Linked DNA regions of Homo sapiens. The protein of the gene in region 6 purifies or fractionates together with the protein of the main gene of each other region. This does not show direct contact. Each region holds a gene or a part of one and is shown on either strand. Other genes may lie near its edges.

Region 1 (3,500 bases), on a different chromosome or scaffold from region 6:
AAGTGATGATAGTACTGAACCTTACATATACAGGTTTTTCCCTATATATATCTACCTGTGATAGTTTAATTTATAAATTAGGCCCAGTAAGAGATTAACAACATTAACTAATAATAAAATAGAACAATTATAACAGTAATAAAAGTTATGTGAATGTGGTCTTTCTGTCTCTATAAAAATATCTTATTGTATTATGCTATGGGTAACTGAACCCTCACAAAGCGAGACCAAAGATAAGAGGGGGACTACTATATTTGATCTATATTTGATAGAAACAATAAATGAAGCTAGAACTGCTTTAATCAAGACTATATTTTGCTTTATTTTACTTTACATTAGTGATATCAGTTTGCCAGGAATTCTGCATTTCCCCATAAGGGCCAATGACACGAAGCATGAACCATGAGGTGGAACTAAGAAAGCTATTTTTAAAAGCAGCCTGCATTAAATCAAGGGTATGCCCTTGCTTTGATCAGACAAGTTCTTTTGAAATTCAGGAGGCAGAGACTTTTGGTTCCATGGTCTCTTTCTGGGGAAATGTAAAAGGAACAGTCTAAGCAGCTGAAAATGTCACAAAGACTTTGGTTTAATGACAAAGTTAACATCAAAAGTCCTACCCAAGAGTCCTCTCTGGTCTTTCTAGTACCAAAGATATGGGAAGCCTCTAATTACTGACTTCCAGGGAAACAAGAGCTTTTGGTGCATTCCATGCTACAGTTATTTTTCTTGTTGTGTGCTGAGTCTGTCTAAATCATAAACAGTATGCATCTCAGAAAAACGAAAGAAGAGAAAAAGAACAAAAACCTTCTTAATAGGACACCCAGGCCATAAATTAGATTTCTATTCCTGACCATAACTATGCGGTTCCCATTCAACTAGAGATACCTGACATCTATTTTTAAACTGCAGCTAGAAAGGAAATAGCATCCCCAAAGCACTTACCTTATTTTGTTGCCACCATCTTGGTTACAGACAGGTAATAGGTCCATCAGAACTTTGTAGAAGTATCTGAGTGTGAAGTCAATGCCCATCACAGCCACAGTGTGCCCAGAAGACAGCTGTGTACTTTAAGTGAAAAAGATCAATGAGAACAATAGGCATGGCTTATTTAAGGATAAAAGCTATGTTCAGTCACAGGGACATTGTTTGGTATTAGAAATACCTTCCCACTGTTCCTCCCTACTTTTCCCACCTACAAAAATGATCAACTAAGTGACTGATTTAACACAACATGGAAATTTTATGAGAGAAAAAAATTTAAGACTTAATGTAGGACTGTATAAATAAGAGTGGCCCAAAACCTGAGCAGCTGTGAAATATGACGTTCAGAGAGTGGCTCGACTGACAAAAATATGGGCACAGAGGCATCAGGTGGGAGGTTGGATGCATGACTACTACAGTTACTTCCAACAAACCTCTAGATAAAAAAAAAATCCCCCTTAGCAACACCCTTATTATTTACTTCATTTTTTAGATAAGAAAACTGAGATCTCACAAAGGTTAACTGAGTGGCTAAGGTCATACAAAACTTAGGAGGAACAATGTCTAGTCCAGTTTTTTTCCCACAACATTAAGGTTGACTCTACTCAGAGCACAGCTCATATTCTAGAACAAGACTCTCCTGGTCCATAGGCCAGTGCTTTCTCCATTCCACCCTGCTACTCTCAACAGCCAAGGAAGAGAAAATTGGGCAGTAAAACACGGTGCTAACTTGTTTGGCTCTGGAATCAGCAGATCTGAAGTCAAATCTTGGCCCTGTTGCTTTCTATATATGTGGCTTATGGAATGCTGTTTCACCTTTCTAAGTTTCAGTTTTCTCACCTGAAAATGGATTCAATAATAGTACCTACTTTATAAGGCTGTTATTGGGATTAAATGAGATGGTGTATTTACAGTGAACACCTAAAAAAATAGAAGCTAAGCTAAAGAAAACTAAACAGTGAAGTTGAGCCCTCAGGCATGAGTTGACAATAAACTTATTACTCTTTCAGAGAAAACGCACTTCAAGAAATTGCTAGGTGTGTCAGAAGTGTGGACTTCTCACTTGGAACCTTGGCTGTTTTTAATCTATGCTCATGGGTAACTGGGAGGGCATGTGCTACTTGACCAACGAACTCCCCATACTCTTGTGGCTGAGAATTTGCAGTTTACCCAACATAGGACTTTCTAAGAGCCTATTATTTAGCATCACCCACCTGCCTAATTTCTTTAATCACAAAAACCTTAATTATTTCTCATAGCAATCTTAAAAGGCATTATAATTTCCAGAAAACTAAAGCTTGGGGAAATTAGTTATTTGGCCAAGGTCACATAGTGAATAACTAGTAGAAGCAGAAATGTATTTATCATTTTTGTAAGAGATGGGGTCTTGCTATGTTGCCCAGGCTAGATTCAAGCTCCTGGGGGCTCAAGTGATCCTCCTGCCCCAGTCTCAAGTAGCTGGGACTACAGACACACAACAATGGGCTGGTGGAAGCAGGGCTTTAAACTTAGTGTCTTCAACTCCAAAGCATATACCATGAAGTTGTACTGCCTTCTTAGATCTGCAGAGCATTCAAGCGTTTCCAAGCAACTTTACACTATTTAACTATCTGTGAAAAAGCCATAAAGGAATCATAGTTCCCATTTTATAAATAGAAGATTAGGCTGAGAAGGGCAAAAACACATAAGATAGATTAGACCAGTACCCACACCTGGCTCTTTCTACAACCCTACAGCTACCTCGGTGAAAAATAGCACTTAGGTGTTTTGGTATAAGGTAATTTTATTTCTAAACTTCTCTTGTATAACTGCCATCTGCTTCAAAATGATAAACATGCTAAAGCAACAGCACGTATATTGCCTACATAAATCTAGGATTCATATTTTCACCTGCATTTCAGATGGGTACACTGTTACCATAGCAACTCATAAAGAATGATACTGGAAAAAAAAAAATCACACCAAACCTATATTTCTAAGTACAACAGACCAGGCTGTTTGCAATACTTCCGTGAGATTTTCACAGCCAAAGACACATCTAACCAGTCCTTTACTCAATGATTGTACTTCATCTCTAGCAGCACCACCCTTCTCCAAAGAATGCAAACCCAGATTCTCAGGGCACTAAAAATGTGTATGAAAGAATCACAAGAAAGCTTACTATGAGTAACTGATAAGTGAGTGTTGAATTAGAAAATGCCTCTAATTCTCAGCCAAACCACTGAAAACTGAGTTCATGGGACTGCTTCATGACAAGCTGAAGATTAGCTTAAGCTTTCTCTTCTGACCTGCTAAAATGTCAGAACTTTAAAACAAAAATAGCATGATAAAAATAACTGCCATTTATTTGGGACTCGACCTCTTAAGTACAGTACTAAGCACTTGACATGCATGCATCATCTCTAATTCTCATCCTATCAGTTCAATGCAGGTATTACAGCCTCTGTTTTACATATGAAGTCAGCGAGGTCACAAAACATTATTATAAAAGTGCTTAACATTTATTGAGCCCTTACCAG
Region 2 (3,500 bases), on a different chromosome or scaffold from region 6:
CCACCATTTTCCAGCTTTACTACCTTATGCAAATTACTAAACCTGTCTATACCAGTTTCCTCATCTGTAAAATGAAATATTTAATATGGCATGTTGCATTAGAGTCTAAGGATGCAAAGTTCCAAGCCTAGTGGGAAGGCAACATTTTATTCAACCTTGAGTTAACTTCATGAGACTAAAGGCAATTTCTCAATTATTTCTGTGTTCCTGCTGTGCTTTTTTAGGAGACTCATAAATTTCTGTTAAATTATAACAGTAACAGCAAAACCTTCTACTTCATACATGGTTGAAAATGTTCAGCTATGCTTACATAAAGGAAAAAAGAAAAATAAATCAAATTTTGAAATATGTCTTCCTTTTTGGCTTATAAGTTAGAGAATATGTCTTTTATTTTTTCTGTCACCAAAGCACAGGTAATCATTTATTTCAGTTTATAGCTTTCAATATATAAAGCATGAATATATTATATTACGCTTATGGGAGAAAGAACACAATGTCAAGAGGAAGAAACCACATTATAAAATACTAAACCAAAACAGATCCCAAGTAAGCTCGTAAAGATTATCCAGCCCTCATCTTCAATGTCATAAGGTCGTGCAAATGAGGTGTTAACCCAACCAGGAGAGCCAATGACATTAGTCACAGTCCCTAAATATCTGATTAAATGGCAAATCCTGTCACAGTAAGTAGAAGGCATCTCTTTCACTAGGGGTCTCCCTAAGCCAGTTAACAAAGCAAAACACCTGGATACTGAGGAACTCTATCACAAGAAACCTTTGCTTTTCTCTGCCAGCCAATTTCTATTAGGCCTGAATGGGTAACAGGAAACTTAAACTACATAGCCTAGGAAGACTACTTGCACTTTTAAATTATTTATACCCTTACTGATTCTGCATCATTTAAAAAGAGAGAAAAGGAATCTATCCAATTCCCTAATTCTGACCACCTAAACTCAAATGAACTTCTTTCCCTTTACTCTTCTACCACCCATTCCCTGGACTTCATCATCCTCTAGTGCTGGGCAATCTGAAATGCAATATTCCCACCATTGTCCCAACTCCTATCCTTCTAGCTCTCTCACTCCCCAACCCCACTGCTCTTTGATGAAATAGGTGCTGCTAGCCTTTAACCTTCCCATCATCATCCAGTCAATCCAAACTATTGGCTTTCCTTCTTTGGGAATCCAACCTAGCTCTCACAATCCACCATTATTTCAACCACTCTTCCTGCTAAGACTCTTAAGTGTTCCAAGACAATTTCTCCTCCACTTCTCCAAAGTGATCCACTGCTCTCCTCAAACTTGCCACCCCCTACTTCTTTTATCACTTAATTATTCCTACTAACAAGCTTGTTTCTTATCTTCGCAAGAAAGCAGAGGCCACAGACCAAACTGCCCACAACTTGTCGCTCCCTTCTGTCAAATTTGTCACATTCAAACCCGGTTTTTCCTTTGTCCTTCCTCTGTCAGAAGGTAATGTGTCCTTTCTCAGATTGAAATCCTGTTCATATACTTATGCCACTGAAACTTCAGTTTTCTCAAGGACCTTCCTCTAACGAGTTTTACCTTTCTCTCCTGTATCTTTAACCTCAGTCTGCCCAGCAGCCTTTTTCTTTAATGTTGTTTCCCACAGTTCCTTTTCCAGTCCTGATATTCTCACTCTATACACACACTCTTCCTGGCCCATTTCATCCAATTCTATGGTTTCAAATATTATTTATAAACTGATACTCCTAAATTTGAAATTCCAGACTTCCCTCTTAAGTGCCAAACCATCATTTTCAAACACCTACTGGTCAGTTCCACTTGGATGTCACACATAAATCTTAATATAATGACTACTCTGCTGGGTGTGGTGGCTCACGCCTGCTATCTCAGTACTTTGGGAGGCCGAGGCGGGCAGATCACCTTAGGTCAGGAGTTCGAGACTAGGCTGGCCAACATGGTGAAACCCCGTCTCTATTAAAAATACAAAAAATTAGCCAGGTGTGGTGGCACGCGCCTGTGATCCCAGGTACTCAGGAGGCTGAGGCGGGAAAATCACTTGAACCTGGGAGGCGGAGGTTGCAGTGAGCCGAGATTGTGCCACTGTACTCCAGCCTGGCAACAGAGACTCCGTCTCAAACAATATACACACATGACTACTCATTTTCCCCCAAAACATTTCCTCCTCTTTTATTTCTTCTCTTAGTGATCCACCTAGTTTCCCAAGCCAGAAACCTGGGAGGCATCACACATTTCTCTCTCTCCATTATATAAAAGATTACCATGCCTTGGTAATTTTTACCTTTTCAATCTATACGCTCTTTCACTACTGTCTAACTCAATGCAAGCAACCTTCTGTCTATGTCCACTACTGCTTCAAAACAGAGAATCATCATTTTTTAAACTTTGCTCTCTTTGCTTCAGTCTCAATACCCTCTAATTCTTCCTACCAACTGTCAAGGCAATGTTACTAAATATCAATTTGATCATATTACTCTCTTTCAAAAAGCTCTAATGGCTCCAATCATCTTCAGTATAAAATTTATTTTACATGGAATACTAACAACGTGTGCTATTTCCTCTGCTAGGAATGACTCCCCTCCTCCAACTTCCAGGCTCAGTTAGATACCCCTCATCTGTACCTGCAAATAGGAAATAATAAGAAAGTTTTTATTCATGAAATACATAAACATAAAGCTTCAGAGTTGTCTTCCTCTAAAGGCCACTGAATATTAATCACATAGAAGTGATCATGGAAGGCTTCAAAGTAATTTTTAAAACAAAGGAAAAAATTTCATACAATATTCCCAAATTAGCTAGTACAGTTGTACTAAAAAAAGTTATACTGCTAAAACATGAAGATTTATGTATAACAACTAAGAAAAATAGAAAAAAAGAGAAAGAGGTTATTATAAAATGACAGAATAAAGCCATAGCCACTACAACAACAATTTAATATACAAAGGATAGAGTTATAAATGAAAACAGTAAGGTAGGAAAAACCATGTAGAAGTCCAAAGACAGTAAGTAAATATCAGTAAATAAAGCACTATTCTTTATCAATACTCTTTTATTGGTTTTTCTAACAGATTTGAAATCTTTAAATCCAGCTTATTATTAATTTTAAAAAAGAATTACATGGGCAGCCTGGGATACGCCTATAATCCTAGCACTTTGGGAGTAGGAGGTGGACAGATTGCCTAATCGCAGGAGTTGGAGACAAGCCTCGGCAACATGGTGAGACCCTGTCTCTACAAAAAAAATACAAAAATCAGCTGCGTGTGGTGGCATGCACCTGTAGTCCCAGCTACTCAGGGGGTTGAGGTGGGAGAATCACTTGAACCCAGGATGTCAACGCTGCAGTGAGCCAAGATCCTGCCACTGCACTTCCAGCCTAGGTGAAAGAGATCCTGTCTCAAATAAATAAATAAATAAATAAATAAATAAATAAATAAATAAAATAATAGTCAAGCACTATGGCCATAAAAGACAGAAATGACTAAAAATTTGAAATAAA
Region 3 (4,235 bases), on a different chromosome or scaffold from region 6:
CACCACTGAACTCTAGCCTGGGTGAAAGAGTGAGACTCCATCTCAAATAAATAAATGAATAAATAAACTAACAGGAGAGGAGCTAGGAGAATTCACTTGGATTGGATGTGGCTAAGTGATTTGGGCCAATAGGACTTCTTATAGTGAACACAGATCTCAGCGTGGCAGTTGGCTTCCTGTGTACCCTTAGGGAAGTGGATTGTGCTCTCTGAGCCCTAAAATGGGTATCGTTCTCTTCCTTCATGGAGTAGCCATGAAATTTCAACTAGAGGATGCCTGCCAGGTGCCTGGCACGGCACAGGCACTTAATGCGTAGTAGTCCCTATTACTAAAAATATCATCATCCTCATTATTCTTATTTTGACAGCGTCAAGACGGAGGTCTGATGGCCGGCCATGGTGGCTCATGCCTGTAATCCCAGCACTTTGGGAGGCCGACGTGGGAAGATCACTTGAGGTCAGGAGTTCAAGATCAGCCTGGCCAACATGATGAAACCCTGTCTCTCCTAAAAATACAAAAATTAGCCGATTGTAGTGGGGGGTGCCTGTAATCTCACCTACAAAGGAGGCTGAGGCAGGAGAACCACTTGAACCCGGGAGGCGGAGGCTGCAGTGAGCCAAGATTGTACCACTGCACTCCAGGCTAGGCAACAGAGCAAGACTTCATCTCAAAAAATAAATAAATAAATAAGAGGGAGCTCTGAATTGGAAGGGCTGACAGTGCAGTGAGCTTTTCTGAACAGCAGTGAAAGCTGGGAAGGGGTGGAGGAAAATGGGGGAAGTGGGGAAAGGGCTTTCTGGGGAGTCCCAGCCCCTAGGTCTCTGGCTATGCTACATGATTTTCTGTGCCTCAGTTTCCCCATGATGCAGCATTGCTTGGACTACAATAGATGAACCGTTATTATTTCTCCCATAAGGCAGTGTGTGCGTGCTTGCGAGGCAAGCCTGCTCTACCCTGAGCCGCAGTTCTGAGCCCCTCCAGGTGACAGTGACCACCAGCTCATCACAGGGGAAGGGCTTAGACCAGCACCTGGCAGCTCTGGGGGCGCCTAAGAGGAGTGAGGTGAGGAGTGGCCACAGCTCTGGTGGCTTCAAATCTCGCCCCTTGCACAGCCCTGTGTATGACCTGGGAGGTTGCCCCCTGGGCACTAAATGGGGGTGACATTGTCCTTTGTGCCTCCAAGTGACACAAAAACATTTGGGACAGGTTGAAGTCAGGCCCGAACCAGGACAGATGTTTGATAAATGATGGCTGTTTTCTGCCACTTATTCCTGAAAAGGTGGTGGGGCATGGGGGGCGTTGTTGCATGTAACTAAGGCTGGAGACATGACGGGGCTGGATGGAGGTTGCCCTGCAGGCCTGGTATAGAACGCAGAGTCTGGCAGAGCCTCTGCACGTGAATGAAGATTTCCCACGGGGTGAAGAGGGTGGGGGTATTGGGAAAAGGGACCCCAGGCCGCAGTGGGAGGCCCACCTTCTGCTCCGGCTCAGGCTCCGCGGGCTGGCTCCAGCAGCCGTGGCTACAGGCCTGCTGCTCTGCCTCCTTCACATAGGCTTCCACGCAGGCTGTGGGAGGTGGGAGCGGGTGACTGGGGACGGCCCTTCCCAGGCCACCTCTCCCCACGCTGGCCCACCCTGCCGGCGGGCCCTCACCTGCTTCACACTCAGTTTGGGTGGCATTGGGCTTGGAGCTTCTGGCCACAAATCGGCAGATGGAGAAGAGGCGGCAGCCACGCTCGCAAGCGCTGATCAGAACGGCTCTGTCATAGGGAGACTCGGAGGCGCCCTCCAGCCCCGCCTGGGGGAGGGGAGGACAGGGGGCTCAGGCCATGGGGAGGGGCAGGAGGAGGGTGGGGGGACCGGAGCATTCAGCAGAGGCAGGGAAAGGCTTCCCCGCTCCCCACGACATCTAGCCAGATGGAGATGAAGTTGGGAGAGGCTACAAATATTAGTGGGGGCTCTTAGCTCTGAGGAGGGAGATGGGGAGGGAGCTTGAGAAGAGAAATGGACAGTGAAGGTGGAGAGAAATGAGCCTTCCCCCCACTAGGTTCCAGGGAGGAGGGGAGACATGGAGAAGGATTCTCAGACCTGGAGGAGGAGGGGGAGGCTCAGAGGAGGGGGTTTTGGTCACACGCAGATCAGGCTTGAATCCTGGGGAGTGGTGGTATGAGTAGGGGCTGGTAGCTCTGAGTGGGGAGGGAACACGATGTGGAGGAGGAGGAATGAGGTGGGGGGACCATCAGGCCTGAGGGAGCTGGGGGTTGGGTGCTAGAGGGTCCTTACCCAGCAGAGTGCGGAAGGAGCCCGGGAGGTGGTATCGGCCCCTTATCGCAAGGACCTGCATCCCCAAGCACTCCCCCATCAGAGGGAACCCCAGCCCGTCAACTACTGGAGAGATCTCCCCATTCCCGACCCCCACCTCCCCACGGACACCCCCACCAAAGTCTCCTGCTGTCATCCAAGAGAAGCCCATCCCAACGCCTCCTCCTTCGGAGAGATCCCGCGTCCCCCGCTGGCACCTGGCACCGCACGCGCCTCACCTGCGAGGGCTGCGGGCCGAGGTCGCGGTCGCGGCACCGCAGCTGGCAGTTCTGCGTGTCCCCGAGCTGGGGGGCGAAGGGATCGCGGGCGGACGGCGCGGAGGCGGCGGGCGGCGACGCCAACAGCAGCAGCAGCAGCAGCGGCGGTGGCATCAGCGCCACCGCAGCCATGGCCGGGCGGAACGCGGGGGGCGCGGGGGACTCCAGCTCAGGCCGGGCACGGAGGATGCAGCGGCTGCGGCGGGGACCGGGGCGCTGACGTCACCCGAGCGAGGCAGCCTGGGAAGCGGGGGGTGGGAGATGCGGAGAGCGGGCGGGGTAGCTGCGCTGCGGCACCCGAGGCGTGCGGGTCGGGCGGGGCAGGTGCATCGCGGCCCCCACCGTCTATCCCATCGCGGGGGTCCCAGGACACCTCCCTGGTGCCCACGGGCGGGGGATCTCTGCTGGCGCTTGGGGCCAAAAGGAAATATATAGGGGGATGGGATGGAGGGGACTATTCCCCAGGGGTGTCGAGGAGAGCGGAGAGCTTGGCGGAGGAGGCGACGTGTGAGCCGACCACGCGGGAGAGAGGAGAAAGGGGTGTCCAGGCTACAAGGATCAGCGAGGATCCTGAGAGAAAGAGCTTGTTGCAGGAGGAGGGAGGGCGATGGGGCTGGAGTCCAACCAGGGAACGGAGAGGGAGGAAGGTGAGAGCCGCAGGACCCGGCAGCTGAGTCCTGGCATCTTCTCTTTTGACACCCAGGTTAGAAAGGAGACAACTTGCGCGCAGTTTGCCTCCTCCGGGAAGCCCTCTGAGCCCCTCCCTTGCTCCTTCAGCCTCGCCTCCCTCTGGCCCAGCCCTGATCCACTGACCTAGGGAATCTGGCCCTGTCTCCCCAAGGCTGGAGACCCCTGGGCTGGGGCTTAGTGGGAGGGGACACAGAGGTATGCTCAGGAGCAAGGGGAGGGGGTGATGCTGACATGTCTAATTCTCATGGGAAAACGGGGCAAATAGCGACACTTCTGACTTCCATAACCATCACACCCCAGGGCGATGGACTGTAGCCCCAGGAGCCGAATCTCGGTTAGAGGGTACCCCCAGCTTCCTCTCCGCCAGATAAGGGAGTGGGGACGCCCCTCTAAACCCGGATCCTCTGCAAAGATGCCCCCGCTTTCGCTGGCATGCCTGGCGCAGGTGCCTGCAGCGCCGCGCAGCAGCCCGCAGGTCCCCCACCTACGCTCCGCCCCCGCAGACGGGGCGGCAGCCTCGCAGGGTCTGCGGGTTAGAGGGCGGCTCAGGTTTCGGCCTGGGAAGAGGGTGTCCCGGGTGGGGGCCCGGCGCACCCCCTACTCTGGCCTGCGGCCGCGCTTTCATCTCAGCGGCCCCCGGCCGGCCCCCACGTGGCTTAATCAGGCGCGGCTGTGCCTGGCGGACCCCGAACATCTGGATCCCGGTGCGGCCCCTCCCCCGCCCCGCCCCGCCCCTCCCCTCCCCTCCCATGCTAGGCCGCTGCGACCCGGCGGCGAGGGCCTCCAGCCCGCAGTTTGCGCCAGAATCCAGCAGGAGAATTCCGCTTCTAACCCACCCGCGCGCCAGGCCCGCACCTTGGGAAACAGCCCTGTGCGTTATGACCAATACTGTCCCCCATTTCACAGGTGGGAAACTTAGGCTCCGGGACGCGTTGGCAAAGTCAGGATTCAAGCCCACACATGCTA
Region 4 (3,938 bases), on a different chromosome or scaffold from region 6:
CTGAAGTGCGGTAGTGTGATCTTGGCTCACTGCAGCCTCAACCTCCTGGGCTCAAGCAATCCTCCACCACAGCCTCCCGAGTAGCTGGGACTACAGGCGAGTGCCACCATGCTTGGCTAATTTTTGTATTTTTTGTAGAGACTGGGTTTCTCTATTTTAAAAAATAATTTGTTATTATTATTTTAAATCTTCATTTTAACAAATAATCTGGGATGTGCAGATAGACTATAAAGGTTTAAAGTTTTTTTTTTTTAATTTCATAAATTGTATACCATGTCAATTTTCATTTGATGTCAATTTTACGTGGATACTAAAAGGTCTAAAACTTAACAATCTTTAACACCAAACTGAAATCTCATTTGAACACCCTGAAAATTCAGAGGCTAAAAATTTCCCAAAACTGAAAGACAGTGAAGAGACCTATTAACCCAGAGTGTAGTGAGTCCAAGTAGCTCCAAGAAAGGCCCTGGAAAGATGTGCTGAGTTGACAATACAGGAAAAGCACCACTAGGAAAGAAACAGGAGCACTACCTTTCTATCACATTGTTAGGTAAATATTCACTTAGAGCAACTTCAGGCAGCAACGAGGGCAAATTAAGGAAAGCTGCGGTGGCATCCAGTTGTTTCAAGATTAAGGTAATTTAGCAGCCCTGTCTACTTGCCTTGAAAAAATACACAAACATTCCCAACAAAGCTAGGAGCAGTAGGAGAGCTATGATCTGTCGAGCGAAAACCTCCTGCCAAGTACTGGGATGGGTGCTAATAAAAACCTAGGAGCCGGTTCTTCTTGTTGACTGAAATCTGACAAATTAATGTTAATCCTTAACAAAATTTAACTCAAATGTGTCCTTTTCCCTATAATCAGTCACATGCTCTTCTTTCTTCCCACCCATCCTGCAAACACTTGGTATGCTGCTTGAGAGAAGTTTATCTTTAATGATTCTAGCTGGCCTGTAACATCACTATTTCAAGCTCAAAGCTTGGGTTCTAGTCACAGCCACTAACTACCTGTGTTATTATACACAACCACTTTACCTCTCTCGACATGAGTGTCCTCCTAATTGCTACAATAAGGAAATGGAAAAAAATACGATCACTAGCTCTAACACTACAGTAAATTGTACCAGAAATTTATAAACTTTATACTTCCTTAATACAGGTGTCAATGTGCATTTTTTTCCTTTTTGGGTTTATAGTATTTGTGAAATTTTCAAACAGGTCTGTATTATAAGAAAGGGTAAGAACCACTGATAAAATATTAAAATGATATCAGTAAAAATATTATTTCCTTTTTTAGAAGATAGCTCATGACAATGCACCTTTTAAATGAAGTGTAAATGCCTCGTCTAAAAAAAATTCACCACGCTGCTTTATGAAGTAAATGTAGTAAATTCAGTCAGGAAGGGCACTGGCAAATGAAATCCACGTTGCAGGAAACTGTAAACACTGCATTTGGTCCCAGAATACGGATTTTTCCCTTGATTTGTTCCCATGCCACTTTGGTTCTTCTCACTTTCAGATCCCCCTAACCAATGCTTAGCTGGCATCTCCACTTGGCTGCTTCACAGGCACCAAAAAGTTTTCTGCCTAAAACTGAATTCTCAATCCTTCTTTCCACATCTATTCCTTTCCCAATTTTCCTCACTCTGTAAAGTGGCATCATCATGAACACGGTTCATCAAACCAGACACTTTTCATCATTCTCGACATTTCCTTCTTATATTTACTCCACCACATCCAATCCACTTTCTATCAAATCCACCTCCAAATCTATCTCAACTCATCCCTCCCCTTTTCTCCCCAATTACACTGCCCCACACGAGTCAAAGCCATCATTTGCTGCTCCCTGGACCTCTACAATAGATCCTTAAATGGTCTCTTCGCCATTACACAGACCGCCCCAAATTCGGACAGAGTGGAAATCAGATCCTGTCATTACCCCGCTTTAAATCCCTGTATTGCCTTCCACTGAATTTGGAACAAAACCCCACCTTCTTACAGAGCCCACAGGGCCCTGGAGCACCAAAATGCTTGGTTCTTAGATCCTGCCAAGCTTTTTCCTGTCTCAGGGCCTCGATATGTATTCCACCTCAATGTTCTTCGACTCGTACATCCTTAAAGTAAGATTCCATTGACTGTGCCCACTTGTTTTGAAAAGGGAGTTTATTACACAGTTGTTTTAAACAAGTTCATAACCCTAGAACTTAGGTATAGAGTGACCGCTCTAATCTAAAGCAACAGAAGGGAAATGGGAGCAGGGCAGGTCTTCCAGCAGAACACCAGCTACCATTTCTGCAGGCCTCTCCATCGATTCACCCGGGGAGCCCTGACCACCGAGGCCGAGCGGCGGGCTCCTGTGCGCAGCTGCCCCGCAGCAGGCGCCCGCGGCCTATGGCGCCGCCCCATTTTTTCTAATACTTGGACTCGAACTAGTGGGGTCACTGTTAGGCGAAGAAAGGAATGACCTCCAAGGTCACATGCAAGCAAACTTTGGTCTCAACTAAACAGGAAATTGCACCGAAATCGCTGTCGCTAGCGCCTTACAAGTAAGGGTTTTCTCCTTAACCCAAACAAGCCTTTCGGGCTGGGTTTTTATCACGTCCGCTCCAAAACCGAGGAGGTTGAGTGAACTTCACCCCACGACCCCGACTCTCCGCGGCGGCCGGAAGCGGAGGCCTGGCCTGGGGAGGGCAGGACCCCGAGGGGCGAGGAGAGGAGGAGGGGGCTGCGCTCACCTCGGAGCAGAGCCATGGCGGCTGCTGGGTCGTCGGCGGCGCGGGTCTGTGGTGTGGGGGACGCTGAGCGGCCGCTCGCAATCACCCAGATTTCAAGAGCGTGGGTGGCGCCCCGAGAGCCACGCCCCTGCCCTTTCACCTACTTCCTGGGGCTCCTTGGCGGGGTCCCAGCGTAAGATGGTCCTACCCCACGCGTAGCGCTGCCCGCCTCACCCCAGCCCGAGGGAGCCCAGGGGACGGGGCTCGGATAGACCACAACGCGCCTTGAGAGCGGACTCTTTCCTCACATCCTCATTTTTAGATTTTCTCCGTTTCCAAACCGAGAGAATTTGGTTTGACACCTCTCACCCATCATATCCTAGCCCCGACAGGCGATGACTCTTCCCCTTTGTCTCCGCCAACACCCTAAACACTGGGCAGGAGCCAAGGGCTGAGGAACTTGGCGCGCGGGCGGCCGCGGCCGCCAGCTGGGGGCGGGACCGAACGTCCTGTGGGCGGGGCGCGGCGGCGGCGGCGGGATTGGCTGGGGCGGGCGGGTGCGCAGTCCGCTGGGCAGAGGCTTGGGCCGCCGAGCTGGACCCGGACCGGTTTTGGGTACTGTACTGGGGGCAGGGCAGAGAGGTGGGCGGCAGTTGGGGTGCGGTGATTGTAGTAGGCTAGGGCGCTTTCGGGTCCCCATTGCAGCCCCCGGATGAGCCCGCAGTATTTTCCTTATATGATCAGGTCCCATTGCGGGCGGCGCCGCTTGCCCGGAGCCTGAGAGGATTATGAAAACGTGGCGAGCGAAATGGGGCCAGGGGACCTGGAGCAGGGGCGTGAGGAGAGTAGGCAGCGGGTGAGGCTGGACGGGAGGGAGGTCTAGGGAGGCCTCTGCCGCGGGCACTGTGAGTCCTGGCCGATGATGACGAGACCACTGCGCAATCTGAGTTCTGGGAACCAGGTGATGGAGTATGTTCTGAGAACAGACTGAGGCCGGGCAAGCAGGAGGCGGCCGCGGCAGGGGAGAGGCGGAGAGCCCCTCGATACCAGGGCTCGGAGGGCCGGGCTGCCTAGCGAGGGCTTCTTTTGAGTGCGTAGGGGTGGTGGGTGGCATGGACGGTTTCTCTGAGTCGTCAGCGAATGCCCCCCCTAGAATCCTGCTTTTCAAACACTTTGGTGACACTCTTGCAATGTTGGGGTGTTTTTAAATCCAAATTTGTATTA
Region 5 (3,500 bases), on a different chromosome or scaffold from region 6:
GAAACATGTCTGAAGATAAATACATCTGATCTTCAAGAGATTTTCAGAGCTCTGAAAGTTTGCGGTACCTTGAATTTGGCCGTAATCTGGTTGATAAGAGGAATGAACTCCTGGAGATCTTTTGCTTCACAATCTTTGAGCATATGTTCTGAAGCAGATGGAATGAACGGAAGAACTTCTTCCTCCAGGCAAATAATCATTCGATGAAGGAAAGTACGGACTCCACTTCTGAGAATATCCTTTTGTAAGGGACAACTGAGGGCTGGCAAGAATGTCTGTAAACAGTCCAGATAAACTTCGGAACAGCCACATTGTTTCACAGTCTGTTTGTTGCTGAAAGCTTTACTGGTTCGACTATATAAGCAAAAATCAGGCAATCAGATGCAACTTTATTCTTTAAAAGTGTTATGGAGTATTCAAAAGCAATGCACAACAAATTACAAAATTAACAAAACTAAATAACCAGACCTTTATTTTCCACATCACAATTACTTCCATCTTTAGCTAATATGGCTATTTGTAAACTACTGCTTCCAATGATCTTTCCAGAACAAAAGAGCTCAAATTAACTTAAATGAATGACATGTAGTTAATATAATCCTTCTAATGTGAGTCTACCTAAATGTTTTATTAAAATCCTATTGACTGGGCTGGGTATTGTGGCTCATGCTTCTAATTCCAGCACTTTGGGAGGCTAAGGCAGGCAAATCACTTGAGGCCAGGAGTTCAAGACCAGTCTGGACAACATGGTCAAAACCGGTCTTTACTAAAAATAGAAAAATTAGCTGGGTGTGGTAGCACATGCCTGCAATCCCAGCTACTTGGAGGCTGAGGCACAAGAATTGCTTGAGCCTGGGAGGCGGAGGTTGCACTGAGCTGAGATCACAACACTGCACTCCAGCCTGAGTGACAAAGCAAGACTGTGTCTCCCCCACAAAAAAAAGAAAAAAGAAAAAAAAGAGAAAAATCCTACTGACAAAGTGGACAGAAAAGAGAAAATAAATCCACTTATTATGACTAGGCCTGTACTAGGTAACCTGCAAACCACCCATTTAAATTTAGAAAACCATCTTCAGAATTCTTTATACAACCTCTCTAATATCTAGCTCTTGTTCTTAAATATATTATAGAACAATTTAACTTCTAAATTAGCAATCTTTACAACTTTCATGCTGTTGTTTGTCAACAAAAAGTATGGCTAGAGGCGGAAAAAACAGCTGCTTGGGTGATCTTCAGGACACAATACAACTGAAGAGAAACCTCACGCTCTTCTCTTTAAGGTAACCAAGACTAACCAAAGATGTCCCGTCCCAATATATATTTGGTATATTAACACTTCAGCTGATCCTCTTAAACACACAACCCATTTATATCAGAGAAGTCAGAGGAGTTAAAGATTTACAGTTGTCAAGGCAAAAATGTAAATGGTATGTAACCTATCCCCTTCTTCAACCAAATCTAACTGACTGGATTTGGAGGACAAAGATTTAGACAATTCTCTGGATTATCCAACTGTGGAAACACAAATGTGTGTGCCCACCAAACAAGTGGTTCTGTCTGTGTAGATACATGCACTTTATAATTTTAACTGTGATCACACTTACCTTGCAAATCCAACAGCATGGTTAAGACAGTCTGCTAGAGAGGCTTGCCTTTCTTCATCTTGTGCCAGCATCAACTTTTCTAACAGAATTTTAAACTTCTCCATTAGTGGAGTCAACAGATTCCTCATTAAGGCTTGTTTCCTTTCTGCCGGATATTCACTATTAACAATCAGCACTCCAGCTGTCTCATAAATAAAAAGTTGATCATCGCTGCTCAGTAAGGACTGGTGGCCATTCTCCTAGAATGAAATTCAGTCTTATTAAAGCTTTTATTTTTTGAGTTCCCTTCATTTAATGAGAAAAAGTGCATTAGGAACAGGAAATGTAATCTATCACACCAACTCATATGTCAAATACTTATAAAGACAAATTTTCTCCCAGGACCATAGAATGAAAAGAAAACTAAATTAGAGGTCAACAGATCACGGTTCTAATTCCAGCCCTGACAAGACTCTATAAATGATCATGTAAGATAATTATTAAAGTTAGCTTTCTAACTTGTTTTCTTTTGTAAAGATCTTATTTATATAAGATTGTTATGAGGCTAGGCTGCATGTGGTGGTTCATGCCTGTAATCCTAGCACTTTGGGAGGCCGAGGCCGGCAGATCACTTGAGGTCAGGAGTTCGTGACCAGCCTGGTCAACGTGGTGAAACCCTGTCTCTACTAAAAATACAAAAATTAGCTGGGTGTGGTGGCGCACCTGTAGTCCCAGCTACGCGGGAGGCTGAGGCAGGAGAACTGCTTGAACCTGAGAGGTAGAGTTGTAGTGAGTCAAGACCATGCCACTGCACTCCAGCCTGGGTGACAGAGCCAAGACTCTGTCTCAAAAAAAAAAAAAAAAGTACTAGAGTGCTATACTTCTTTTAAATAATTAAGTAACAACACACAGTAAAGCATTATTTTGCATGTGTCTGTAAGGGTGTTTCCAGGAAAGATTAGTCAGTCCAAGTAGACTATGTGGGGAAGACCTGCCCTCAGTGTTGGCGGGCACCATCCAATTGACCAGGGGCTCTGAGAGAACAAATACATAAGGCAAATTGGTCTCTCTCTGAAAGGTGGACAGACTTTTCTTCTGCGGCCTTGAACATCAGAAATTTGACTCTGCAAAAGTACATTACACACAGCATTAACTGTGTGTGTAAACACTGCATGTACACAAGAAAGGTCCTTTCTGTACATCTGCATCTGTGAAACATAAAATTTCTTGTGATCTCAGTTCTTTGGGTGACTGCATATGTTGTAGTGACCCATTGCCGTTTTTTATCAATTTCCTCAAGACTTAGGTTGTCTGTCATGGTTATTTCAGATGAGCGCAGTTATAAAGCAGAGTGGCACACAACTACTAACCATAGTGACATGCACTTACACATTTTGCTTTCTGATTTATGAATACAGTTTGTCTGCTCCTGTTTTACACATGTAACTGTCATTTTTATAACTGTTTATGCTTGCAAAAGCATGTTATTATTGCCTATTTTATTGTGTAAAGTGGCCTATGAAGTGCTGTCATGTTTTTACATGTTTCTCAAATACATTCCCTTTTAAAAATGTAAAGTAATATCTTTCAAATAATTTTTTAAAATTACTTTTTCCAGGATTATATTTTTAAGATTTTGATCTTTTAGAATTGTGGTTTTTAGGATTTCAGGATTTTAACACTTGGGATTATGGCCCAATCCCAACACCAAAATATTCAGATCGACTAGCACTTAATTTTTTTTTTTACCCTAAGCCTGAAATGACAGGGAAAACCTTCGATCTAACAGTAGCAGCTGCTAAGAATGGCTAATACAATTATAGGATTAAACAGAATAATTTAGAAGTTGAATTTTTTAAATTTTTATTTTCTTTTGGTTTTTAAAATTTTTAATATACTTTTCATTTTAACAGCAAG
Region 6 (3,500 bases):
TGCAGTGCTCTGGCCAGTGGGTGGTTGGGGCTCGGGTTGGCATGGTGTGCAGGGCTGCAGTGCTCTGGCCAGTGGGTGGTTGGGGCTCGGGTTGGCGTGGTGTGCAGGGCTGCAGTGCTCTGGCCAGTGGGTGGTTGGGGCTCGGGTTGGCGTGGTGTGCAGGGCTGCAGTGCTCTGGCCAGGGAGCAGGCCTGAGCGTGTCCCAGCCCCTCCCGTGGCTCCACGAGACCTTGCTTCCCCGCTTCCCCTGTGACAACCCTGGGCCACCAGCTCGGTGGTGGCCAGGGCCACTCACCACCCTCTTTCCTCCCCACAGTGGCATTTCTGTTAACATCCAGGACTTGGCCCCGTCCTGCGCCGGCTTTCTGTTTGGTGAGGACCTTGCCTTACCCCAGCTTTGCCCCTCCCTGGGCCTCCGGGTGGGTGAGCCATGGGGGATCCCGGAGGGCTTTTGCTGACCATCCATATTCTCTCTCGCTCTGGCCTCTTCACAGGTGTGGCCAACACAGCCGGGGCCTTGGCAGGTGAGGGGCGGGCCTCTGTGCCCAGGAGTTCCCCTGTCTGTGGGGTTTGAGGCCACCGAGGTGCTGCAGGGTGGGGTTGTGCCTCCCTTCAGAGGGGGTCCGGGTGTCAGAGGAGGGCACAGACCCCAGAGCAGGCCCAGGAGAGGAGGATGGGGCTGCCTTCCAGGTTCCACTGGACTTTGCTGACGGCAGGTGGCTCATGAGTCGCCATCTGCCCTGACTCACAGATATGTTCCCATCCTGGTAGCCCAGGGTCCCCGGGACACCTCCTGGCCCCGCTGAGTGCCATGGATGATGGGGGTCCTTCTTCAGCTCAGCCTCGCCTGGGCCGGCCTGTGGCTCCCATTTTCCTTTCAGCGGGACAAAGGGGACTTGTTACCAGGCCATTTTCTGGATGGCCTGTGAGATCTCTGCCCCTCCAAGACCCTCCAAGTCTGAGCCTGACCCACAGCTGGGACACTGAATTCAGCCCTGGGAACCATGGGGGCTCCTATCAGGCGCTAGACCCCCAGCCCTTCCCCTGGCACTACCTTGGGAACCAGGGTGGGGTGTGGGGCCTGGGCTGCCCGGGAGCACTCAGCCCGCCTGGCCCTCTCTTGGGCAGGTGTCGTGGGTGTGTGTCTAGGCGGCTACTTGATGGAGACCACGGGCTCCTGGACTTGCCTGTTCAACCTTGTGGCCATCATCAGCAACCTGGGGCTGTGCACCTTCCTGGTGTTTGGACAGGCTCAGAGGGTGGACCTGAGCTCTACCCATGAGGACCTCTAGCTCCCAACCCCACAGCCTCTCCAAGGACCCAGGCGCCAGCAGCCCCAGGACACAGGGGACTCAGTGTGTGGGACTTGGTCACTCCATGTCAGACACACGAGCAGAGAGGAACACAAACCACTGTGGAGCCTGAAGCTCCTTAAGAAGAGTCCACAACAGCTGGTGGGAGGGTGGGGTGGGCCTGGGTCCAGACCAGGCTCGCTGCTCTCTGGGCCTCAGTTTCCCCACCTGCCAGCGGGCTCGGCCCTGTCCTCCTCACAGGCTGGTGTGGCCGTCAGGGTGGGTGGGGTTATTGTTAGTAGGCGCAGCCTCATTCCCACCACGATCTGTTCCGCGTGGTTCCCGCCAAACCTCCCTCGGTCGCCGTGTTCTCCGCAAGCCTCCTGCAGCGCCCGCCTGCCAATGTGAGGCTGGCACCAGGCTGCAGCCTCCCCAATCCCAGCCCACTTTGCTGTGTCTCTGGCGGGCTGTCCTCCTTGGTGGGAGCTGTCCTGCACACTGTAGGATGCTTAAAGGTATCCCTGGCCTCCACCCACCCCTAGCCAGCAGCTCCCAGTCAGACAACAGCCAGAAATGTCTCCAGACTCTGCCCAGCCTCCCCAGGTAGCCACCCTCGAGACACGACCTCAGAGTCTCTGTGTCTCCTAGAAGCCTGACAGAGACCCCCAGGGCAGTGGGTGGGTGGCGGGCTAGAGACCCTTGCCTGTGTCCGGGACCCTGGCGCCGCTCTCCCCTCCTGTGGATCCCTCCGCACTAACAGTGTTCTCAGTGGGCAGACGCCTGGGCACCCCTTGGGCCCTGCCCAGCATGGCCATGGCGCAGGCTCTCGAACCCGCATGGCTTTCCCAGGCCTGGTGATTCTGCTCTCCAGGGACGGTTGGCACCTTCCTCGGGGGCGGGCCCCACGCACCCCAGAACACACAGACCCACCTTTCTGGCGTTCTTTCTACCTCCCTTTTCGTTGCCTGAGGAGCTGGTGGTTTCATGAGTTAATGATACATCTTGCAAGGTGTACACATAGAGAAAAAAACCTAAAAATGTGGAAAAGCACGCCAAAGCCTTATTTAAATAATAACTATTAAACTATTCAAAAAGAAGACTGTTATTTTATTTAACACCTTTGTTTTTTAAGAATGAACACGTGTTAAAGACTTTCTGTAACTAATTTCATGAGGAAACGAGTGACACGTTGGAATCAGGTCAAAGGAGAATCCCAGGAACGGACTCCTAGGCCGGGAGTGTTGAAATGAGCATGCCAGCAGAGCCAGGCTGGGTTTCGGGGTTCCTTTGCCGCCAGGGGTCCTGCGTGTCCACAGATGACAGCGATGTACCCTGCTATCAGCTGTCCACCCAGCTTTCCCAAGATGTGGGGCCCCCATGGAGTCAGACAGCCCAGCTGTGCTGTGGAAAGACAAAGTGGAGTTTTGCACTTGAGCACAAATGTTCCCCTACAATCTCTCCAGTTTCGGTCAGCCCAACCCTGTGGCACCATGGGTACAGCCTAGAGCATCACCCCCACAGAGGCTTCGGGACGGTCCTGCTGGACTGCTGGACGCTGCTGTGGGGTCTTGGGGCAGGAGGGGCTTCCAGAAGCCTGGCAGTTGCTGTCTGGAGGCCAGGAAGCCAAGCCCAGGAAGCCCACCTGCGGCTGAGTTCAGAGGTGGGGCCTGTGCGTTGTGAATGAATTGCTGTCTCTCTCCTCCTCATCTTGCACTAAATCTACATAACTTAAAATTTACCATTTTAGCCATTTTTAAGTGCACGGTTCTGTGGCATTAGGTACATTCGCATTGTGCAGCCACCGCCACCCTCCGCCTTCAGAACTTTCTCATCTTCCCAAACCGAAGCTCTGTGCTCATTAAAGGCTAGCTCCCCGTTGCTCTCCCCCAGCCCCGGCAACCCCATTCCACTTTGTGTCTCGACCGTAAGTGTGGCTGCTCTGGGACCAGTGCCAGTGGGCGCACGCTGGGTTTGCCTACGTCTGGCTTACTTCACTCAGCAGAGTGTCCTTCGGTTTTATCAGTTTTGTCACAAGTGTCAGCATTTTTCTCATTTTTAAGGCTGAATAAAATATTGTGTGGATAAGCCATGTTTTGTGTATCTGTTCACCCATTGATGGACCTGTGAACACGAGTGTGCAATTAGCACCTTTTATTTTTATTTTATTTATTTTTTGGAGACAGAGGCTCGCTGTCTCCCCCAGGCTGG
Region 7 (3,500 bases), on a different chromosome or scaffold from region 6:
GAGGCCAAGGCGGGTGGATCACCAGGTGTCGGGAGTTTGGGACCAGCCTGACCAACATGGAGAAACCCCGTCTCTACTGAAAAAAAAAAAAAAAAATACAAAAATTAGCCCAGCATGGCAGCGCATGCCTGTAATCCCAGCTACTTGGGAGGGTGAGGCAGGAGAATCACTTAAACCCAAGAGGCGGAGGTTGCAGTGAGCCAAGATCGCGTCATTGCACTCCAGCCTGGGCAATAAGAGCGAAACTCTGTCTCAAAAAAAAAAAAGAAAGAAACTGGGATTTTTTTTTTTTTTTGAGATGGAGTCTCACTGTATCACCCAGGCTGGAGTGCAGTGGCATGATTTCAGCTCACAACAACCTCTGCCTCCGGGGAATTGTCTCAAGCAATTCTCCTGCCTCAGCCTCCGGAGTAGCTGGGATTACAAGCATGCGCCACCACACCCAGCTGATTTTTGTATTTTTAGTAGAGACAGGGTTTCACCATGTTGGCCAGGTTGGTCTCAAACTCCTAACCTCAAGTGATCCACCCACCTCAGCCTCCCAAAGTGCTGGGATTACAGGCATGAGCCACTGCGCCCAGCCTAGTTTGTAGTTTGTATTTTATTTTAATGTTAAATGAAGAAGCTGATATAAATAAGATCCTTTGCTTTTTTTTTTTTTCCTCACCAGTTCAGGGAGCTTTTGCCAGGGGCAGAGACCCCCAGAGGGCTGGGACCTTGGGGAACACCCCTTAGATGGGACAAAGCCTGGAGGAAGGGACTGAGATGTGATTGGGTGGGGAAACATAAGGCCAACAGAAGACCTGGAGTCAAAGTTGGACTTGAAAAAGTGGGTCTAGGGACAAGGGAAACCTGCTGGCCACCATCTTCCTGACAATCCCCTCTCCCCCAGCTGGCTGGCCCGCACAGACCCCAAGGATGTGGCACGAGTAGAGAGCAAGACGGTGATTGTAACTCCTTCTCAGCGGGACACGGTACCACTCCCGCCTGGTGGGGCCCGTGGGCAGCTGGGCAACTGGATGTCCCCAGCTGATTTCCAGCGAGCTGTGGATGAGAGGTTTCCAGGCTGCATGCAGGGTAACCAGGGCAGGGGCACAGTGGCAAGGGCACGGAAGATGTGAACAGGTTTGGAACCCTTCATCCAGGGGATGCCTTCCTCCACAGGCCGCACCATGTATGTGCTTCCATTCAGCATGGGTCCTGTGGGCTCCCCGCTGTCCCGCATCGGGGTGCAGCTCACTGACTCAGCCTATGTGGTGGCAAGCATGCGTATTATGACCCGACTGGGGACACCTGTGCTTCAGGCCCTGGGAGATGGTGACTTTGTCAAGTGTCTGCACTCCGTGGGCCAGCCCCTGACAGGACAAGGTAAGCACCTGCTCTGCCCCAAGGGGAACACAGAGGCCTTCTTGTACTCAGAGGAAATCCCAAATCCTACCTCTCCACAGACCCTAAGAACCTGTCCTCTCTGGCAACCTAATTCCCAAGATCCAGAGCAGCAGTCCCAGCAGAGGGATAAGGCTGTGTTTGCAGAGCACTTTGCACTAGGTTGAGAAAAATCCGTGTCCAAGAATAGGGGCATGGAAGCTGATGGTTATTATGAGGTGGGGGGCTTCAGCCACCTCTTGGTGCTGCTACTGCTCCCAAGTGTCTCTCCTGCCAATCCCTGATCCCTCTGGCCCCGACACCCCAGTTCCTGATGCTGCTGCCAGCAGCCCCATGACCCCATTGTCCCCAGGGGAGCCAGTGAGCCAGTGGCCGTGCAACCCAGAGAAAACCCTGATTGGCCACGTGCCCGACCAGCGGGAGATCATCTCCTTCGGCAGCGGCTATGGTGGCAACTCCCTGCTGGGCAAGAAGTGCTTTGCCCTACGCATCGCCTCTCGGCTGGCCCGGGATGAGGGCTGGCTGGCAGAGCACATGCTGGTGAGGGCCTGGTGAGAAGCAGGGCAGCTGCCGGGGACAGGGCAGGGGTGGGGCCTGGCCAGTCTGCCTCAGCCTCACCTCCCTCCTGCCAGGTGCCAGGCTGGTGGGCGGGGACTCTACTTGAAGGCCCAAAGCTTTGGCCTCAGGCTGCTGAATGTTGAGGTTTCCCCTGCCACTAACCCAGGCCTGATGGCAGGGCAATCACTTATATAGTTAATAAACATTGGTCCTCCCTATTAGACCCTAGCTGCCCTTCCCCATGCAGACCATGCCCTGACTTTTGGTGACCTCTTTCTTATTCCCTCTCTCCCCAATGCACAGATCCTGGGCATCACCAGCCCTGCAGGGAAGAAGCGCTATGTGGCAGCCGCCTTCCCTAGTGCCTGTGGCAAGACCAACCTGGCTATGATGCGGCCTGCACTGCCAGGCTGGAAAGTGGAGTGTGTGGGGGATGATATTGCTTGGATGAGGTTTGACAGTGAAGGTGAGGGACTCTCAGATCATACTCTTGGTTCTGGCTCTTGTCAGAGCCTCGGGGTCTCCTCTCTAGTGTTCACAATGACTTTGTCAGTGAGAAAGTTTCCTGAACACCCAACCCTGCTCCATTCCTCTGGCAGCCCAGCCACCCGAGAGACAGCCTTTCCTCATCAGATCTTGGGTCCATCTCAGGACAGGGGTGGGTGGAGCAGGACCTTCTTTGGTCTTACATCTCAAGTTTTCCTTGTTTGGTCCTTCCTTTCTTTCACTTCTCCTAACAGGTCGACTCCGGGCCATCAACCCTGAGAACGGCTTCTTTGGGGTTGCCCCTGGTACCTCTGCCACCACCAATCCCAACGCCATGGCTACAATCCAGAGTAACACTATTTTTACCAATGTGGCTGAGACCAGTGATGGTGGCGTGTACTGGGAGGGCATTGACCAGCCTCTTCCACCTGGTGTTACTGTGACCTCCTGGCTGGGCAAACCCTGGAAACCTGGTATGTGCGGTGGGGAAGGTGTGGCACAGCCTCCAGGCCTCAGCACCTTAATGGTGGAAAAGCTTTCTCCACAACCTCCAACCATCTTCTAGGACTGCCAGGAGGCACAGAAGTCATGAACGTTTGCAGTTTCCAGTCCCAGGCAAAATCTCAGTTCATGTCCCAACTCCACCAGTCACTGGTTTTGTGATCTGGCTAAGTTGCTCAACTTCCCTAAGCTTTAGTTTCCACATCAGTTGAATGAGGGTAGTTGTGATAGTACCTATCTCATGAGATTGTTGGAGGATTAAATAGTGCATAAAAAGGGTTTATCACACTGACAAATACACAGTAAATTCTCAATAATAAATACAGGCTGGATTTTTTTTTAATGAAAGGAAAAGGAAGGACTTTTGAACATTCTTACAGAAGGTATTGGGCTCCAAGCACTATCCATAAAGTTTGGCCCATTAGGAAAAGAGGAAAGCTGCCTCCTCTGCTCCAACTCTCCTCCTGCCACTTGGCTCCCACTGTCCCCTGTATAATAACCACTGTCTAAAGGTCAGTATTGTTACCGTCACCCTTCCCCTGTCCCTCCAAAGCATTCACCCCAATCCT

Evidence for each region.
Region 1: the proteins of SLC17A9 (region 6) and CACHD1 purify together in Homo sapiens (affinity purification with mass spectrometry; one large-scale study listed by BioGRID and IntAct). This does not show direct contact.
Region 2: the proteins of SLC17A9 (region 6) and MON2 purify together in Homo sapiens (affinity purification with mass spectrometry; one large-scale study listed by BioGRID and IntAct). This does not show direct contact.
Region 3: the proteins of SLC17A9 (region 6) and TMEM59L purify together in Homo sapiens (affinity purification with mass spectrometry; one large-scale study listed by BioGRID and IntAct). This does not show direct contact.
Region 4: the proteins of SLC17A9 (region 6) and ACAA2 purify together in Homo sapiens (affinity purification with mass spectrometry; one large-scale study listed by BioGRID and IntAct). This does not show direct contact.
Region 5: the proteins of SLC17A9 (region 6) and XPOT purify together in Homo sapiens (affinity purification with mass spectrometry; one large-scale study listed by BioGRID and IntAct). This does not show direct contact.
Region 7: the proteins of SLC17A9 (region 6) and PCK2 purify together in Homo sapiens (affinity purification with mass spectrometry; one large-scale study listed by BioGRID and IntAct). This does not show direct contact.

The regions. Positions count from the first base shown.
Region 1 is NC_000001.11:64,669,129-64,672,628, reverse strand, and holds part of CACHD1 (VWFA and cache domain-containing protein 1 isoform 1 precursor), read right to left. Parts: intron 1,066-3,500; coding exon 943-1,065; intron 1-942. UniProt on the Homo sapiens protein: May regulate voltage-dependent calcium channels.
Region 2 is NC_000012.12:62,469,826-62,473,325, reverse strand, and holds part of MON2 (protein MON2 homolog), read right to left. Parts: intron 2,626-3,500; exon of another isoform or gene 2,548-2,625; intron 1-2,547. UniProt on the Homo sapiens protein: Plays a role in regulating membrane trafficking of cargo proteins. Together with ATP9A and DOP1B, regulates SNX3 retromer-mediated endosomal sorting of WLS away from lysosomal degradation.
Region 3 is NC_000019.10:18,611,435-18,615,669, reverse strand, and holds the start of TMEM59L (transmembrane protein 59-like precursor), read right to left. Parts: upstream 2,801-4,235; 5' UTR 2,712-2,800; coding exon 2,541-2,711; intron 1,799-2,540; coding exon 1,654-1,798; intron 1,567-1,653; coding exon 1,475-1,566; intron 1-1,474. UniProt on the Homo sapiens protein: Modulates the O-glycosylation and complex N-glycosylation steps occurring during the Golgi maturation of APP. Inhibits APP transport to the cell surface and further shedding.
Region 4 is NC_000018.10:49,810,734-49,814,671, forward strand, and holds the start of ACAA2 (3-ketoacyl-CoA thiolase, mitochondrial), read right to left. Parts: upstream 2,801-3,938; 5' UTR 2,752-2,800; coding exon 2,736-2,751; intron 1-2,735. UniProt on the Homo sapiens protein: In the production of energy from fats, this is one of the enzymes that catalyzes the last step of the mitochondrial beta-oxidation pathway, an aerobic process breaking down fatty acids into acetyl-CoA.
Region 5 is NC_000012.12:64,428,392-64,431,891, reverse strand, and holds part of XPOT (exportin-T), read right to left. Parts: intron 1,844-3,500; coding exon 1,605-1,843; intron 355-1,604; coding exon 69-354; intron 1-68. UniProt on the Homo sapiens protein: Mediates the nuclear export of aminoacylated tRNAs. In the nucleus binds to tRNA and to the GTPase Ran in its active GTP-bound form. Docking of this trimeric complex to the nuclear pore complex (NPC) is mediated through binding to nucleoporins.
Region 6 is NC_000020.11:62,966,209-62,969,708, forward strand, and holds the end of SLC17A9 (voltage-gated purine nucleotide uniporter SLC17A9), read left to right. Parts: intron 1-316; coding exon 317-372; intron 373-494; coding exon 495-524; intron 525-1,128; coding exon 1,129-1,292; 3' UTR 1,293-3,377; downstream 3,378-3,500. UniProt on the Homo sapiens protein: Voltage-gated ATP nucleotide uniporter that can also transport the purine nucleotides ADP and GTP. Uses the membrane potential as the driving force to control ATP accumulation in lysosomes and secretory vesicles.
Region 7 is NC_000014.9:24,097,311-24,100,810, forward strand, and holds part of PCK2 (phosphoenolpyruvate carboxykinase [GTP], mitochondrial isoform 1 precursor), read left to right. Parts: intron 1-892; coding exon 893-1,077; intron 1,078-1,164; coding exon 1,165-1,368; intron 1,369-1,738; coding exon 1,739-1,926; intron 1,927-2,247; coding exon 2,248-2,410; intron 2,411-2,684; coding exon 2,685-2,903; coding exon of another isoform or gene 2,904-2,995; exon of another isoform or gene 2,996-3,443; intron 3,444-3,500. UniProt on the Homo sapiens protein: Mitochondrial phosphoenolpyruvate carboxykinase that catalyzes the conversion of oxaloacetate (OAA) to phosphoenolpyruvate (PEP), the rate-limiting step in the metabolic pathway that produces glucose from lactate and other precursors derived from the citric acid cycle.